Regions from separate parts of the Homo sapiens genome. Here region 2 is linked to region 1. Evidence: fine-mapped expression QTL. Tissue or cell type: CD8 T cells. Region 1 holds a variant in brackets; the other region holds the start of a gene. All regions are shown on one strand. Distances are between the middles of the regions.

What was found. PIP is the estimated chance that this variant, and not a neighbour inherited with it, causes the effect.
Region 2: it holds the start of ARMCX4, and the variant in region 1 is fine-mapped to the expression of ARMCX4 in CD8 T cells (Kasela 2017, PIP 0.95).

What each region holds. Positions count from the first base shown.
Region 1 is chrX:101,006,277-101,014,380 of GRCh38, forward strand. TRMT2B (tRNA methyltransferase 2B) reads right to left here. Exons shown (of 14, transcript NM_024917.6): 14 at 3,074-4,431. The coding sequence ends at 4,305. Among named protein-coding and RNA genes, the nearest start is that of ARL13A, 41 kb to the left of the region's middle. The variant CTTTT/C (reference allele first, on the strand shown) is at 3,265.
Region 2 is chrX:101,481,050-101,489,150 of GRCh38, forward strand. ARMCX4 (armadillo repeat containing X-linked 4) reads left to right here and starts at 4,407. Exons shown (of 6, transcript NM_001256155.3): 1 at 4,407-4,481; 2 at 4,974-5,043; 3 at 6,144-6,223; 4 at 6,559-6,642; 5 at 6,995-7,050; 6 at 7,395-8,101. The coding sequence starts at 7,541.

The sequences.
Region 1 (8,104 bases):
TTGGTATAAACTCCTTATCTTTTTGTGAAACATCAGGCAGTCTCCAGACCACACCTCAAGAAGCACTGAACTACATTAGATGACATTAGTGAAGATTAGTGAGGTACTGCTAATTTTCTTAGTTGAACTCATAATATAATGGTTATGTAGAAAAATGTCCTTATGCTTAGAAGATAGATGTATAAGGTATACATGTATCTGTATACCTTATACAGACAGATGAGGGATCTAAAGATGAAGAGTTGGCCGGGCGCAGTGGCTCATGCCTGTAATCTCAGCACTTTGGGAGGCTAAGGTGGGAGGATTGCTTGAGTCCAGGAGTTTGAGACCAGCCTTAGCAAGATGGTGAGATCTTATCACTACAAAAAAATTAAAAAATAGCCAGGCATGGTAGCAAACACGTGTAGTCCCAGCTACTTGGGAGGCTGCGATAGGAGGATCCCTTGAGCCCCGGAGTTCAAGGTGGCAGTGAGCCATGATGGCGCTACTGCACTACAGCCTGGGTAACAAAGCAAGACTCTGTCTTAAAAAAAAAAATTATGACTCACTAAAGACTCAGATGATTTTTAGCATTTTTAAAGCAATAAAGTACATTTTAATTAAGGTACATACACTGGTTTTTTAGATATAATGATATTGCACACTTAATAGACTATAGTATAAGCAATGTTTATATGCACTGGGAAACCATAAAATTCACATTACTTGCTTTATTGAGATATTCACTTTGTTGTGGCAATCTGGAACCAAACCTGCAATATCTCTGAGGGCATAACTATAAACAAGTAACAAAATTATGAGGAAGTTGATTTTCCATAGCCAATCCTGTATTTATTCATTAAATATTCCTTGAAGGAGGAATATTTAAGTTAAAAACAGAAAGGTAAATAGAGTAAACCAGAAGAGTTAGGGAAAAGAATATTCCAAGCTGAGGAAACAGAATGTAAATAGGACCAAAAGGGAAGAACTTTCTCCTTTTCAGGGAAAGGAATCCAATATATCTAGAGAAATGGAGTTCTTCAGATTATGAAGTGGCTTTTGAGCTTCATCAATAATGTTGGACTTTATTTTAAAAGCAATAGGAAGTTGGCTGGGTGCAGTGGCTCATGCCTGTAATCCCAGCACTTTGGGAGGCCAAGGTGGGTGGATCATTTGAGGTCAGCGGTTCGAGACCAGCCTGGTCAACAAGATGAAACCCTGCCTCTACTAAAAATACAAAAAGAAAAAAAATGAGCCAGGCATGATGGCACACGCCTGTTATCCCAGCTACTTGGGAGGCTGAGGCACGAGAATTGCTTGAACCCAGGAGGCAGAGGTTGCAGTGAGCTGAGATTGCACCACTGCACTCCAGCCTGGGTGACAGAATGAGACTGTGTCTCAAAATTACTAACTAAATAAAATAAAATAAAAGCAACAGGAAGCCAATGACAGATTTTAAGTAATGGAGAAACATGAGATTTGCATTTTTTCTTAAGAGGGTCTTGCTATATTGTCCAGGCTGGTCTTGAACTCCTGGGTTCAAGCAATCCTCCAGCCTCAGCCTCCCCACTAGCTGGTATTTCAGGTGTGTGCCATGGTGCTAGAATGAACTGGGGCAAGAGTGAATACAAGCAGCAACAGTTGTGAAGATGACTATTGCAGCAATAACCTGGAGAGAGATGATGGAAGCCTGCAGGGATGGCGACTTTGTGAAAAATTGGATGAGGCCAATAGTACAGGAGAAGGACTCAAAAATCATTCCCAGACTCTGGCTTGGGTGACTGAGTAAACTGTTATATTCATTAAGACTGAGAATAGAGGAGGAAGAACATGTTTAAGGGAAAGATGGAAAGCATTCAACATTAGATATATTGAGTTTGAAGAATCTAGAAGATATCCAAGAGGAAGTTACCTTATAGGTAGTTGGATACAGGAATGAAAAGGAACTCTGTTTTCTGGCTTAAGTGATTGATATAGATGGTATTGCCATTTGCTGATACAGGGAATAAATGGAAAAAAATTGCTTTTTTGAAAATTTCATTATAAAAATAATATAACCCATCACATAAAATTTAAAAATAAGGAAAGGAAAAAATTTATGCAACTACCATAAACCAACACTTTCGGAGGCCGAGGCAGGTGGATCACCTGAGGTCAAGAGTTCGAGACCAGTCTGGCCAACATGGTGAAACCCCATCTCTACTAAAAATACAAAAATTAGCTGGGTGTGGTGGCAGGCGCCTGTAATCCCAGCTACTCAGGAGGCTGAGGCAGGGGAATCGCTTGAACCGGGAGGCGGAGAGGTTGCAGTGAGCTGAGATCACGCCACTGTACTCCATCCTGGGTGACAGAGTGAGGATCCATCTCAAAAAAATAAAAATAAAATAAATCTTTCTGGCTGCTCCTCCTTGGGCTAGATAATTCTTATAGATAGCAAGGGTTCAGCTGGAAGATTTCTTTGATATACAAACTAACCAATTCAGAGCTATATTCCCTCTATCTGGCATGGACACCCCAAGAGACAACATTCCAGTGTCCTAATCACCCCATGGCCAGGTACCAGACAACTAGGGAGCACCCCTATACCTTATTCAAAGTAGCCAATCCTAAACTGTTCACTCAGCCCTGCATTGCCTTTCCCAAAGAAACTCAAGTAACGGCAGTGGCCTAAACCTTCCCCTCTTCTGTCTTCTGCCTCCTGCCCACCCTGGTGTCTTTCCCATGTAGTCCTATGTGGCATAATATGTCTCCTGTCTCTAGGACCTGTAAGCATAATAGACTTTGTTTTCCTGAGCCTCTCCTGTGTCTCCTCTTGTGGCTATACCTGACCCACCATCTAAAAAAAGAATAGAAAACATTATATAGTAGCTTTAACAGCCATATTTTTCTAAGAAGGAGGCTTCTCTAGAATGTTTGATTGAGAAGAATTAAAAATACCAGTTAACCTGATATCACTTTGTGAATCAGACAACACTTACTAAGTTACACATCCTTAGGCCTTTAGATTATCAAAACATAATCTAAATTGTTGGGCAAGTACCCAAGAACAACTCCAGAGTTGATGAAATCATGGACTAGAGAATGTTAAATACAGTCAGTTTTCAATATCCAGTTTATTATGTTATACTAGATTTTGGAGCTTTTTGCCTCCACACTACACAGCACAATTATAGGTATTCAGTCTCTCTGAAAATCTCCTTTCCCTTAGGGTCTCTCCAATAACCAATTCTTCCTCCACGGGTGAGAGTTAATTGGTGCTATTGCTCCTAGGGATAACTACATTTT[CTTTT/C]TTTTTTTTTTTTTGAGATGGTGTCTCACTCTGTCACCCAGGCTGGAGTGCAGTGGCACAATTTCAGCTCACTGCAACCTCCACCTCCCAGGTTCAAGCAATTATCCTGCCTCAGCCTCCCGAGTAGCTGGGATTACAGGTGCCCACCACCAGGGAAAACTACATTTTCAAGGGGCATTCGAGATGCCTTAAAACCAAGAAAACCCAAAAGAATTAATCTCATCTGATGATCACTCAGTCACCCTGTATTCACTTCATGGCTTACCCTGCTTTTAAAAAACCTCGACTGTTTCTGGTTTTAATCCTTAACTACCTCAAGAATCCAGAAGTCTTAGAAATATCTAAAAATTGTAGCATCTCTGAGCAAATGCACAGGCTCCAGTCAATGTAAAATTATTACCAGCTGCTTAAAAAAGGTCATTTGTCCACACCATAAGCAGAAACGGAGGAGACAAGACTATAAACTAGAACCAAGGCTGACAGCAACAGGAAGAAACAGTCCAGATCCAGGAGTGGGGAGTGGTCAAACCCAAGCAAACGGGCATGATTGAAAGGGAATCTGAAATCTAAGGTTAAGTCAGCCGCGGCGGGGTGTGGTGGCTCACGCCTATAATCCCAGCACTTTGAGAGGCCGAGGCGGGTGGATCACTTGAGGTCAGGAGTTTGAGACCAGCCTGGCCAACATGGTGAAACCCTGTCTCTACCAAAAATACAAAAATTAGCCGGGCATGGTGGCACGCACCTTTAATCCTAGCTACTGGGGAAGCTGAGGCACGAGAATCACTTGAACCCGGGAGGCGGAGGTTGCAGTGAGCTGAGATCACGCCACGACACTCCAGCCTGGGCAAGAGTGAGACTCTATCTCAAAAAAAAAATCTGCCTCAGACCAGAGGCCTAATAGATTCTTCCTATTCACAAACCAAAGATTGGTTTCCACTGTAATGCTCCCAGGGTCTGCAATGTAGCAATATGCCAAACCTGAAAGTTTCTGAAACTTCAGCCTTAACAAATAGCCTGCTGTCTTCTAGGAGGCTGCTTATCGAGTAAAGAGGAGCACCAGCTCACAATGTGGGGTGTGAGGGAACAAATCCACAGGTACAGCTTGCTGCAGGACAAAGGGCTCGCCTAAGAGCTTCTTAGCAGGGTCTGGAGGACAGCACAGCCTGTAGAAACAGAACATAGCATCAGTTCCCAGGAATAAAAGGAAGAACCCACAGGAATACAATTGCCTAAAATAGAGGCCCTTCCACTGTGTTCCCACAGGCCCCCTGTGTTTCTCTTATACAGCATTTATCTTATTTAATATAATCGTTTTTCTTCACCATCTTCCTTACTGAATTTTAATCTTTTTAAGGGTAGAAATGAAGTAAACACTGCTTAATATTCATCTCTGGGTTCCCAGTATGTGGCACAGAATAAGGGTTCAATACATATTTGGTAAATGGAGCTGAAGAGCCTGTATGTTTATAAGGCCTTAAGATACATAACCACCAAACTGTTCTAAAAAGGGTTGTACCAATTTATATCCCAACCAGCAAAGTAGAAGAGTATTTGTTTGCCTGGGTAATATTCAATACAGTCATGCATCACTTAACGATGGGGGTACATTCTGAAAATTGCATTGTTAGGCAATTTCTTCACTGTGTGAACATAATAGAGCATACTTACAAATATCTAGATGACAGAGCCTACTACACATCTAGGCTCTATGCTATAGCCTATTTCTCCTCAGCTACAAATCTGTACAGCATGTTACTGTACTGAATACTGTAGACAACTGTAACACAGTGGTAAGTATTTATATATCTAAACATTAAAAAGTACTGTAAAAATATAGTAGAAAAACTGGTCAACCTGGACAGCATAGTGAGACCCCATCTCTACAAAATTCTAATTTTAATTTTTAACTGATTTTAAAATTAGTTGGGTGTGGTAGTACATGCCTGTACTTCTAGCTACTCTGGGGGCTGAGGCCAGAGAATCACTTGAAACCAGGAGTTCAATACCAACCTGGGCAGCATAGCGAGACTCTGTCGTTACCAAAAAATAAAAAATAAATAAAATAAGGTCCGGGCATGGTGGCTCATGCCTGAAATCCCAGCACTTTGGGAGGCTGAGGTGAGAGGATTGCTTGAGCTCAGAAGTTCGAGACCAGCCGGGGCCACATGACAAAACCCTGTCTCTACAAAAAACACAAAAACTAGCCGGGCATGGTGGCTCGCACCTGTAGTGCCAGCTACTCAGGAGGCTGAGGCGGGAGGATGTCTTGAGCCCAGGAGATAAAGGTTGCAGTGAGCTGAGATCACACCACTATACTCTAGCCTGGGACAGGATCATCAATATCACTGTTTTGCACCTCCAAATCTTGTCCCACTAGAAGGTCTTCAGGGGCAATAACATACATGGAGCTGTCATCTCCTATGATAACAATGCCTTCTTCTGGAATACCTCCTGAAGGATCTGCCTGAGGCTGTTTTACAGTTAACTTTTAAAACATAAGTAGAAGGAGTATCTGCTAAAATAATACAAGTATAGTATAGAAAGTATATAAACCAGTAACACAGTCATTTTATTATCCAGTATTATGTACTATAGATAACTATATGTACTTAATTTTATAAGTGGTGATGCTGGTGTAAACAAACCTACTGACAGCACAGTAAGTTTGTTTACACCAGCATGACCACAAACATGTAAGTAACCCATGTGCTGAAATGTTACAACAGCTATGATGTCACTAGGCCATAGGAATTTTTCAGCTCCATTATAATTTTTTTTTCATTTATTATTATTATACTTTAAGTTTTAGGGTACATGTGCACAATGTGCAGGTTAGTTACATATGTATACATGTGCCATGCTGGTGCGCTGCCCCCACTAACTCATCATCTAGCATTAGGTATATCTCCCAATGCTATCCCTCCCCCCTCCCCCCAACCCACAACAGTCCCCAGAGTGTGATGGTCCCCTTCCTGTGTCCATGTGTTCTCATTGTTCAGTTCCCACCTATGAGTGAGAATATGCGGTGTTTGGTTTTTTGTTCTTGCGATAGTTTACTGAGAATGATGATAAATCATGCTGCTATAAAGACACATGCACACGTATGTTTATTGCGGCATTATTCACAATAGCAAAGACTTGGAACCAACCCAAATGTCCAACAATGATAGACTGGATTAAGAAAATGTGGCACATATACACCATGGAATACTACGCAGCCATAAAAAATGATGAGTTCATGTCCTTTGTAGGGACATGGATGAAATTGGAAATTTATTATTTTTTTTTTTTTGAGACGGAGTCTCACTCTATCACCCAGGCTGGAGTGCAGTGGCACAGTCTTGTCTCACTGCAACCTCCGCCTCCTGGATTCAAGCGATTTTCCTGCCTCAGTCTCCCAAATAGCTGGGATTACAGGCACACACCACCACCACACCCAGCTAATTTTTCTATTTTAGTAGAGACGGGCTTTTACCACGTTGGCCAGGCTGGTCTCAAACTCCTGACCTCAAGTGATCCGCCTACCTCAGCCTCCCGAAGTGCTGGGATTACAGGCGTGAGCCACCGCGCCCGGTCAGCTCCATTATAATCTTATGGCACCAACATCATATATTCAGTCCATTGTTGACTGAAATGTTATTATGCGACACAAGACTGTAGTTTAAATAGCATTATCCCATTATAATCAAATACATGACAAAAATATTCACTATCACATCTACAATGGAACATTTTCTTATGCAATATAATAAGCAAAAGGAAAAAATGAGTATTAGAAGGAGAGGGACAGAATTATTTTTACATGGTGATCATATGGTCAGCTACCACAACAATGTGAGAATCAACTAAAAAATGAATAAAACTAATAATAGAGTAAGGTAGCTGTATACCAGATTGGCAATAACTAATGAGAAAATGTCATGAAGGCTGGGTGCGGTGGCTCACACCTGTAATCCTAATACTTTGGGAGGCCAAGGCGGTTGGATCACCTGAGGTCAGGAGTTCAAGACCAGCCTGGCCAACATGGTGAAACCCTGTCTGTACTAAAAATACAAAAATTGGCTGGGCGTGGTGGTGCATACCTGTAATACCAGCTACTCAGGAGGCTGAGGCAGGAGAATCGCTTGAACCTGGGAGGTGGAGGCTGTAGTGAGCCGAGACCATGCCACTGCACTCCAGCAAGATGAGACTCCGTCTCAAAAAAAAAAAAAAAAAAAGAAAAGAAAATGTCATGAAAAGATCCCATTCATAATAAAAAGCTGGCCAGGCACAATGGCTCATGCCTATAAGCCCAACACTTTGGGAGGCTGAGGTGGGAGGATAGCTTGAGCCCCAGAGTTTAAGACCAGCTGGAATAACATAGTAAGACCCTGACTCTACAAAATTTTAAAAATTAGCCTGGTGTGGTGACTCACGCCTATAGTCCCAGCTACTTAGGAGGCTGAGGTGGAAGGATTGCTTGAGCCCAGGAGGTCAAGGCTGCAGGGAACTGTGATTGCACCACTGTACTCCAGCCTGGGCAACAGAGCAAGACTCCATCCCCCGCAAAAAAAAGCATCAAATAGAATAGTGCTTATAGTATGCTTCTACTTGTTTGATAAAAAAGGAGAGCTAGTATGTACACACGTACGTGTGCACACACATGCACTCATGCTTGTAGTGTCACAGAATATCTCTGGTAGTCCACACAAGAAACTGCTCAGAGTGGTGACATCTGAAAGACTAGGGGTCAGGAGTAAGAAACTCATTTTTACCCTATATTCTTTTGTATTATTTGAATTTTCTTTCTCTCTCTTTTTTTTACTGTTTTAGAGATGGGGTCTTACTCTATCACTA
Region 2 (8,101 bases), 470 kb after region 1:
GAAGGTCGAGGCTGCAGTGAGCTGTGATTACATCACTGCACTCCAGCCTGGGCAACAGAGTGAGAACCTATCTCAAAACAAAACAAAAAAAAGGACAATCTTTTGTTGACTCTTATATTGGCAATAATTACTAATACAGACGGTCCCCAATTTATGACAATTCAACCTATGATTTTTTTACTTTAATTGGTGGTGCAAAAGCAATACACATTCAGTAAAATCTGTACTTCAAGTACTCATACAACCATCCTGTTTTTCTTTCAATGTAGTATTCAATAAATTATGTGAGATATTCAACACTTTATTATAAAATAGGCTTTGCATTAGATGATTTTGCCGAACTGTCAGCTAATGTGAGTGTTCCGAGCATTTTTAAGGTAGGCTAGGCTATGATGTTTGGTAGGTTGGATGTATTAAATGCATTTTAGATTTATGGTATTTTCAACCTATAAGTTTATTTGAACATGACCCCATTATAAGTTGAGAAACATTTGTACACAGTGTGCATGAGAGTGTGGGGAAATAGATCCTGTCTTATGTTTGATGGGGGTATAAATTGGCCAAGCCTTTTTGGAGGACAGTTTGGTGGTATATCCATTAACTATATAAAATCTCACATCCTTCTTTTGGCAATATCAAATGTATAAAATCTCATACATTTAAGCAAATAATTATATTTATAGTAGAATATCCTAAAGAAATTCTTCTACCTGTTGGCAAAGCTTTATGTGCCAGACTGTTCATTGTAACCTTGCTTTATTAGCTCCGGATCCAGAACTCATAATATGCAGCAGTTAAAAAGAATGAAGCAGCTTTAAATGTACTGGTATGTAGAGCTCTTTGAGACATAATTTTAAATGAAAAAAAAGCAAGTTGCAAAACAGTATGTTAATTATGATCCTGGCCAGGCGTGGTGGCTCACACCTGTAATCCCAGCACTTTGAGAGGCCCAGGTGGTTGGATCACTTGAGGCCAGGAGTTTGAGACCAGCCTAGCCAACATGGTGAAACCCAGTCTCTACTAAAAATACAAACATTAGCTGGGCATGGTGGTGCGCACCTGTAATCCCAGCTACTAGGGAGGCTGAGGCATGAGAATCGCTTGAACCCGAGAGGTGGAGGTTGCGGTGAGCCAAGATCGCACCACTGCACTCCAGCCTGAGTGAAAGAGCAAGACTCCATATAAAAAAAAATCTCATTTATATATTTTAATAAGACATGTATGTGTATATCATGTATACAAAAGGTTAATACACCAAACTTAAAATGGAGAGGTAACTGTGATTTGGGTGAGGATAGGGGAGTGAAAGTGGTACTAGTGCTTTTTCTGGGTTTGACTATTCTTTTCTTTTCTTTTCTTTTCAGAGACAGGGTTTCACGCCATTGCCGGTCTGGAGAGCAGTGGTGCAATCATAGTTCACTGTAACCTTGAATTCCTAAGCTCAAACAATCTTCTTGCCAAGTAGCCTCCCAAGTAGCTAGGACCACAGGCATGCACCACTAAGCCCAGCTATTTTTTTTTTTTAATAGACAGGTTTCCCTATGTCGGGAAACCTATGTAGGGTGGTCTCAAACTCTTGGCCTCAAGTAATGCTCTTGCCTCAGACTCCCAAAGTATTGGGATTATAGGCGTGAGCCATCACACTTGGCCTTGGGTTTGAATTTTATACTAGAATTGTACTCTTGTGGGATTTGTATGTAAAGTAAACAGCAAATATTAAAACACCCCAATTATCTTTCCACTGGGATACACAGAGCTAACTCCATCAGCCACATTGTATAAATATAACATGAGTTATTTAATCTCTCCCCTATCAATAGCCATTTTATGTTGCGTCAGGCTTTTTTTTTTTTTTTTTTTTTTTTTGACAGAGTCTCACTCTGTCAGCCAGACTGGAGTGCAGTGGCGTGATCTAGGCTCACTGCAACCTCCATCCCTTGGGTTCAAGCCATTCTCCTGACTCAGCCTTGCAAGTAGCTGGGGTTATAAGCGCCTGCCACTGCGCCCGGCTAATTTTTGTATTTTTAATAGAAACGGGGTTTCACCACGTTGGCCAGGCTGGTCTTGAACTCCTGACCTCGTGATCCACCTGCTTCGGCCTCCCAAAGTGCTGGGATTACAGGTGTGAGCCACCGTGCCCGGCTGCGTCAGTTTTTTCAAACCTTACAAGCATTGCGAAAAAAAAAAATTCTAGTAAATATATCTTTGTGAAACTGTGTAGGCATATAGGTTGGCTAAATTCCAAGGAATAGAATTATTGGGTCAAAGAATTTGTGAAATATTATAGTTATCATTTAATAGAGTTTGCCAAATTGCCCTATATAAAAAGCTTGCATCAATATCTGCCTCCAACAGAGTAGAGGAGTGCCCATTTCTTGACAAACCAGTCAACAATATTATCAAGTTTCTAAACTTTGAGAAAATCATACTTGAAACATGGTAAGGCATAGTTGCTTTGATTTGCATTTCTTTGTTTGAGCATCTTTTCATATGTTTATTAGTAATCTATTTCTTTTCTGTGAACAAATCTGTTCATGTCTTTTGGCACATTTTTCTATTGGGTTGTTTATCATTTTACTAATGATCTGTAAGAGCTTTTAGATTATTACAAGTTAGCCTTTTGACAGTCAATGTTTATGGTTTTTTTTTTTTACTTTACCAAAGTTTAAAATTTGTATGCAATTAATTTATCAATATTTTCCTTTGGTGGAGAAAGTAAGTTCGTCACTTTCAATTGAGTTCTGAAAAGCCATTAGTAAGATTGTAAGGCACTAGGACTTCCTTTCTTGGCTCCTGAAAGGGCCTCCTCCACACAGGGGCCCCTCACAGTGGAGCCCCTCCCTCTGGGGTGTCCTATTTCAATGTTCTAAGAAAGAGGCTGCCTGGAGGGTCTATATTTGGAGTATGACTCCTCAGCGGGGACAGGTGGATGCGTGGGGACTAACTTCTGCATATTTGGTCCCTGAGTTTTGGGATTATTCTGAGGGGCTTGTATGGGAGGTGCAGTGAAGTTGTAACACAAGGCAGGACATGAAAAAACTTCTTTTTCTTGGCAATTGCTTGGGATCCTGTACATTGCCCTTCCACTTGTGAGGGAAAAAAATAATGACACGGACATCAGGTGTGTTGCAGTGATTCACAGTCATCCACAGACCCTCACCACCATCTCCACTGGAAAATATTGAACACTCGCCACTGCTAGGGTAGTATGTAGTACATGAATGGCAGACACCGGCGAGATCTCAAGTGTTACGACGGATGAAAATTCCACCTGTTAAGTCTCCTTTCCATCCAAGCTCTAGCAGTTGGTTGTTCCATGGGTGTGGTGAGGCTGATCTGATTACATGCTTATGTAAAATCCAAATAAAGCCCCTTGAATGGAAAACAGGTTAATTTGGGAAGTCACTAGTAAAGCAGGTTAATTTGGTAAGTCACTAGTAAAGCACTAGGCTCATCAGGAGTTGGGTCTTAAATATATCCTCTAGAAGTCTTCTCTGAAGAAGGTCTTAGACACCTGAAAAAAGATGCTGAGTTCAGCCAGAACTTCAAAAGTTACAAATCACCTGTGTAAAATTGTCAATATTAGAAAACGAAATGTCTTTCCAAAGATTAACTTATAGATCATATTGAATACGTGCTGGTTTTGTTTAGGACAATTTTGTATTTAAAATGTCAAGAATTACTAGTCAATTTTGAAAGCTGTAAAATAGTTTGCAGTAACAGAAGACATTTTAAAATGTGGCACAAAATAATGTAAACAAAAGAATGAGTCTTTTGTTATTTTTACACCCTGAATATTTTTTGTGTCAAATGAAAATGGCTATACTGTATTTTCTGATTACAATATTAGAAAAGAATGTCATATTAAAAGAAAAAAAAGGAACACGAAAAAGAAAATTAAAGCTCTACTTGCACCTTCTGCTTTCCTTCCTGATACCCCCTTCCACAGCCCATTTGGTGCAGGCATTGTACTTAGAGAGGGCAGGTCGTGTAGGGGGCGGGTGGGGAGTGCTGGTCTTATAGTCTAAGAGAGAAATAAGTGATTACTCAAAGAAGAAACATAAAAGGCCACAGCCAAGGGCCGGGAGTGGGTAGGGGGATGCAGACCCTCCCCTGTAACTGAAGATGGGTAAACTCCAACCACAAGGCGATGATGCCACTTGTGGGCCCTCAGATTGGAGAGGACGGAGATGAGTGACAACGCGTGCGCACTGGGGCACCGAGCACAGACCAGAGAACGGGGATGTCTGTGCGTGCGGAGTGGAGGAGGGGGGAGTTCCTGGTGACTGGCCGCCGGCCCTTGGTGGGTGGTAGGGGGTGCTGGGGAGGAGGGCGAGCTCGGCGGTGACGCGCGGTCCTCACGTGACCCGGAGCTGCAGAGCTACGCAGCCTTCGTTGCAGTCGTCACTCGCATCTGGCTACCAGCTCCCCGCTGCCCTGCGCTCGGCGGGCTGGCATCGGGCCCGGGGAAAGCGGAGCAGGTAAGGGCCCTGGGGCCCGCGCGCCCTGGCCAGGCCGGCAGAAGCTCACTGACCCCGGCAGCGGTTACGGGGCTTGAGGGGGCGGTGGTCTATGCTGCCTCAAGTTCGAGGAGCCTTTGCCTCTGATTCTCCCTAGCCCCCTTGCCCCCGCCTACATCTGTGCAGGCGAACCGTGGGCTTTGATTTGTGGGGAGATTGTCTCTGCCAGAGGGAAATACAGAGATTGAGATGCCCATCGCTCTAATCACTGGCCACACATGTCCGCTCGCTTCCTGCTCAATTTAGTGGAAGGGATGCGCCACGGTGGCGTTTGCAGAGAAAATGGTGGGCCTTAGAGACTGGACGGTGGGGTTGGTAAGGGTGGTGTCTCAGACTGTGGGGAGGGACGTTTGATAACCAGGTTCCTGAACCCGGAAAGGCGAGTATTGGGATCTATGTCCTGGGCTCTAGACCAACACTAAGTGGTTTTACTCTCTCCTGTCTGTCGGACAGTAGTTCGGTGTAGCACTGTTTGCGGCGAGGAGAAAGGAAGGAGAGGAGAAAACTGCACTGGATCAAGGAGGTTAGTGTGAGTACAGACACTATCTAAACCATTGGAGTTCCATATGAATTCTATGACAGGAACTTAGGTGCGGCTGTCTGAATGGGATGTGGGGTGGGGCTAGCTTGGGGACTTTCCCTAAACTGCATTTTACTTACCAAGCTTAGGACTTTTAAATTGTATGTTGAAGACCAATGAAGACAGCAAACTTTTCTACAGATGCTTTTATTTGCATTTCAGATAATATTGAGAAAAAGATAAATTATATTAAAGAATATTATTATTATTATTATTTTTTAGATAGCCTTTGGTGGGGAAGGATAGTGATTTTGTAGAAGCAAAAGGCTTCCCCTATAGCTTTTCTCTTCTGCTGGAGACTCCTAGAGATAGGTTGAAAGGGACGTGGACAGCAGTAGGTTGTGGTTCTAGAGTATGGGATCTGGGGTCTCCCATCTCTCCTGCCATCCTTCAGTTTTCCAGATCCCTCTACCTACCTGACCATCTTGGTGAAGGAAATGGTGGGCTTTTGGGGAAATCCCTAGAACCCTACAGGTGGTTTTAAAATAATTTGCCTTGTTGGGCCTAGTAGCTCTTGCCTGTAATCCCAGCACTTTGAGAGACCCAAGCAAGAGGATTGCTTGAGCTCAGGTGTTCAAGACCAGCCTGGGCAACATAGCGAGACTTCATCTCTACATATAATTTAAAAATTAGCTGGGTATGGTGGCACAGTCTGTAGTTCCTGCTACTTGGGAGGCTGAGGTGGGAGGATCTTTTGAGCCTGGGAGGTCGAGACTGTGGTGAGCCATGATCTTGCCACTGCAATCCAGCCTGGGTGACAGAGTGGGGCTCTGTCTCAAAATAAATAAAAAATAAAATAAATAAAATAAAATAAAATAAAATAAAATAACGTGCCTCTGTCTGTTGCCTTTTACTTTTCCTGCCTCCCTTTTCCATCCTTCCCATTTCAGTGCTGGGGAAGCCCCAGGCTTTTTTTTTTTTTTTTTTCTGCCAGCAAATGGGTCTCTAAATCCAGGCAGGCAGGTACAGGGACCTATGTCTTAGATGGTAAGTGTCACAAGTACTTAACATCCACTCTCTTCTTTTTCTCCATCTGTTCCAAGGTCTTCCCATAGGCCTGCAGTAGGGCTGTTTACCATTGGAAGCAAGGGAAAGAGGAGGAGATCAATCTAGAAGCATGGAGGTTGGTGTGAAGTGGGGGTAGTCTCTGGGGATGACAAGAGAGGGTGGGCATAGGAGGTGGGTGAGATTTAAGAGGGTCTCAGTGGAGTGCTGGATTGCCACAGTGCTGCCATGCCTCCTGTGGATTTCAGTGCAGGAAATGATAGGAATATGGGGGTAAGGGTGGGCTGGAGTATGACTGGGGGAAGACTTGATGGGGGGACCATGAGATGGTACACATTAGTATATAGAACCTGGGCTCTGGCGAGGCAGACATTGGGGTCAGGGATCAGGTTGCTTGTCTGTTCTACCAGGGACTCGGTTTCCATTACCTACTGTTTGTTTACTTGTCCATAGATCTGCCTGCATGTCTGCTGCAGGGCTTAAGATCACTGGAAGCAAAGAAACAAAGAGGAGATTGCTCCTGATCAGTATAGACTGGTAAGAGTGTGGGGACTGCCTGGGTAGACCTCTAGAGTGGGTTGGTGGAGACCAGTGTGCATCCAGTAAGGACCAGTGACCAGTCTGGAGGATGAGGATCCTCAGTCTCTCCTTTTCCAGCCACCTTTCCCACCATCCCTGTCATTTACTCCATACCCTCACCTTAATTCTGGTACAGGGAAAAGAGTGTGACAGTGTCTTAGGGAGTGGGGTGGACTGAGAAACGTAGAAAGGTAGTTTGCTAATAATATGTCTGTCCCATCAAGAACAAACTCTCTACTCCCATCTGTCCCTCCATCTGTCTGTCTGTCTCTAGGTCCAGAGATCTCATGAATTTATGTATCTACTTTAGGGTGTACTGCCAAGAGAAGCAAGAGGAGAGGAGGGAACTGCCTCGGATCATTACAGGTTGGTATGAGGGTGGGGCCCTGTAGACAGGTGACCAGAGTAGGTCCAGTAGAAATCAAAGTCTGGGACTTCTTGGTTGCTCCCATTTATCGTCAGACCTCCTACCATCCTTTCCACTGTTCATTTGGTGTATAGAAATGTGTATAGAAGTATCTTGGAAGAAAATTATTGGGCATTGGGGAAGGTGGAGAGAAGATGAAATAAGAGGAATGGAGAGGCTGCTAATCATCCTCTCTTCCACCAAGCACATGGTTCTACCATTTTCTGTTCCTCTGTGTATCTATCTGTATGATGCAACAAAATCAGAAGAGAAATTTTAGTCCATTTCCTTCCTCCACTTCTAGGTCCACCTCCAGAGGCAGCTGTAGTGGCCTTTGAGTGGCTGAAGACCAGCACCCTCACAGGCCTACACCCACAACTACCACTCTCTTTACCCCAGCCCGAGTGCGCTCTACCATACCTTGTTCGTGCTTTTAGCAGGGGTGATTACATGGGCCGCATTCAGGAAGTGGGCTGGGTGACTGCAGGACTGGTGATCTGGGCTGGCACCTGCTACTACATTTACAAATTTACCAAGGGAAGAGCCCAGAGTGTGAGGACTCTTGCCAGAAATGGATCCACAGTTAAGATGGAGACTGTGGTTGGGGTACAGAGCCAGACCTTGGCCATAAATGAAGCAGAGATTAAGACTAAACCCCAAGTCGAGATTGGAGCAGAAACTGGAGCAAGAAGTGGGCCTAGGGCTGAAGTAGAGACCAAGGCCACTGCTATAGCCATACACAGAGCCAACTCTCAGGCCAAGGCAATGGTTGGGGCAGAGCCAGAGACTCAATCTGAGTCCAAAGTGGTGGCTGGAACACTGGTCATGACAGAGGCAGTGACTCTGACTGAGGTCAAGGCCAAAGCCAGGGAAGTGGCCATGAAAGAAGCAGTGACCCAAACTGATGCTGAGGCTGGCAAAATAGTTAAGAAAGAAGCAGTGACACAGACCAAGGCTAAAGCTTGGGCGCTGGTTGCCAAGACAGAGGCCAAGAGAGAAGCAATGACCCAG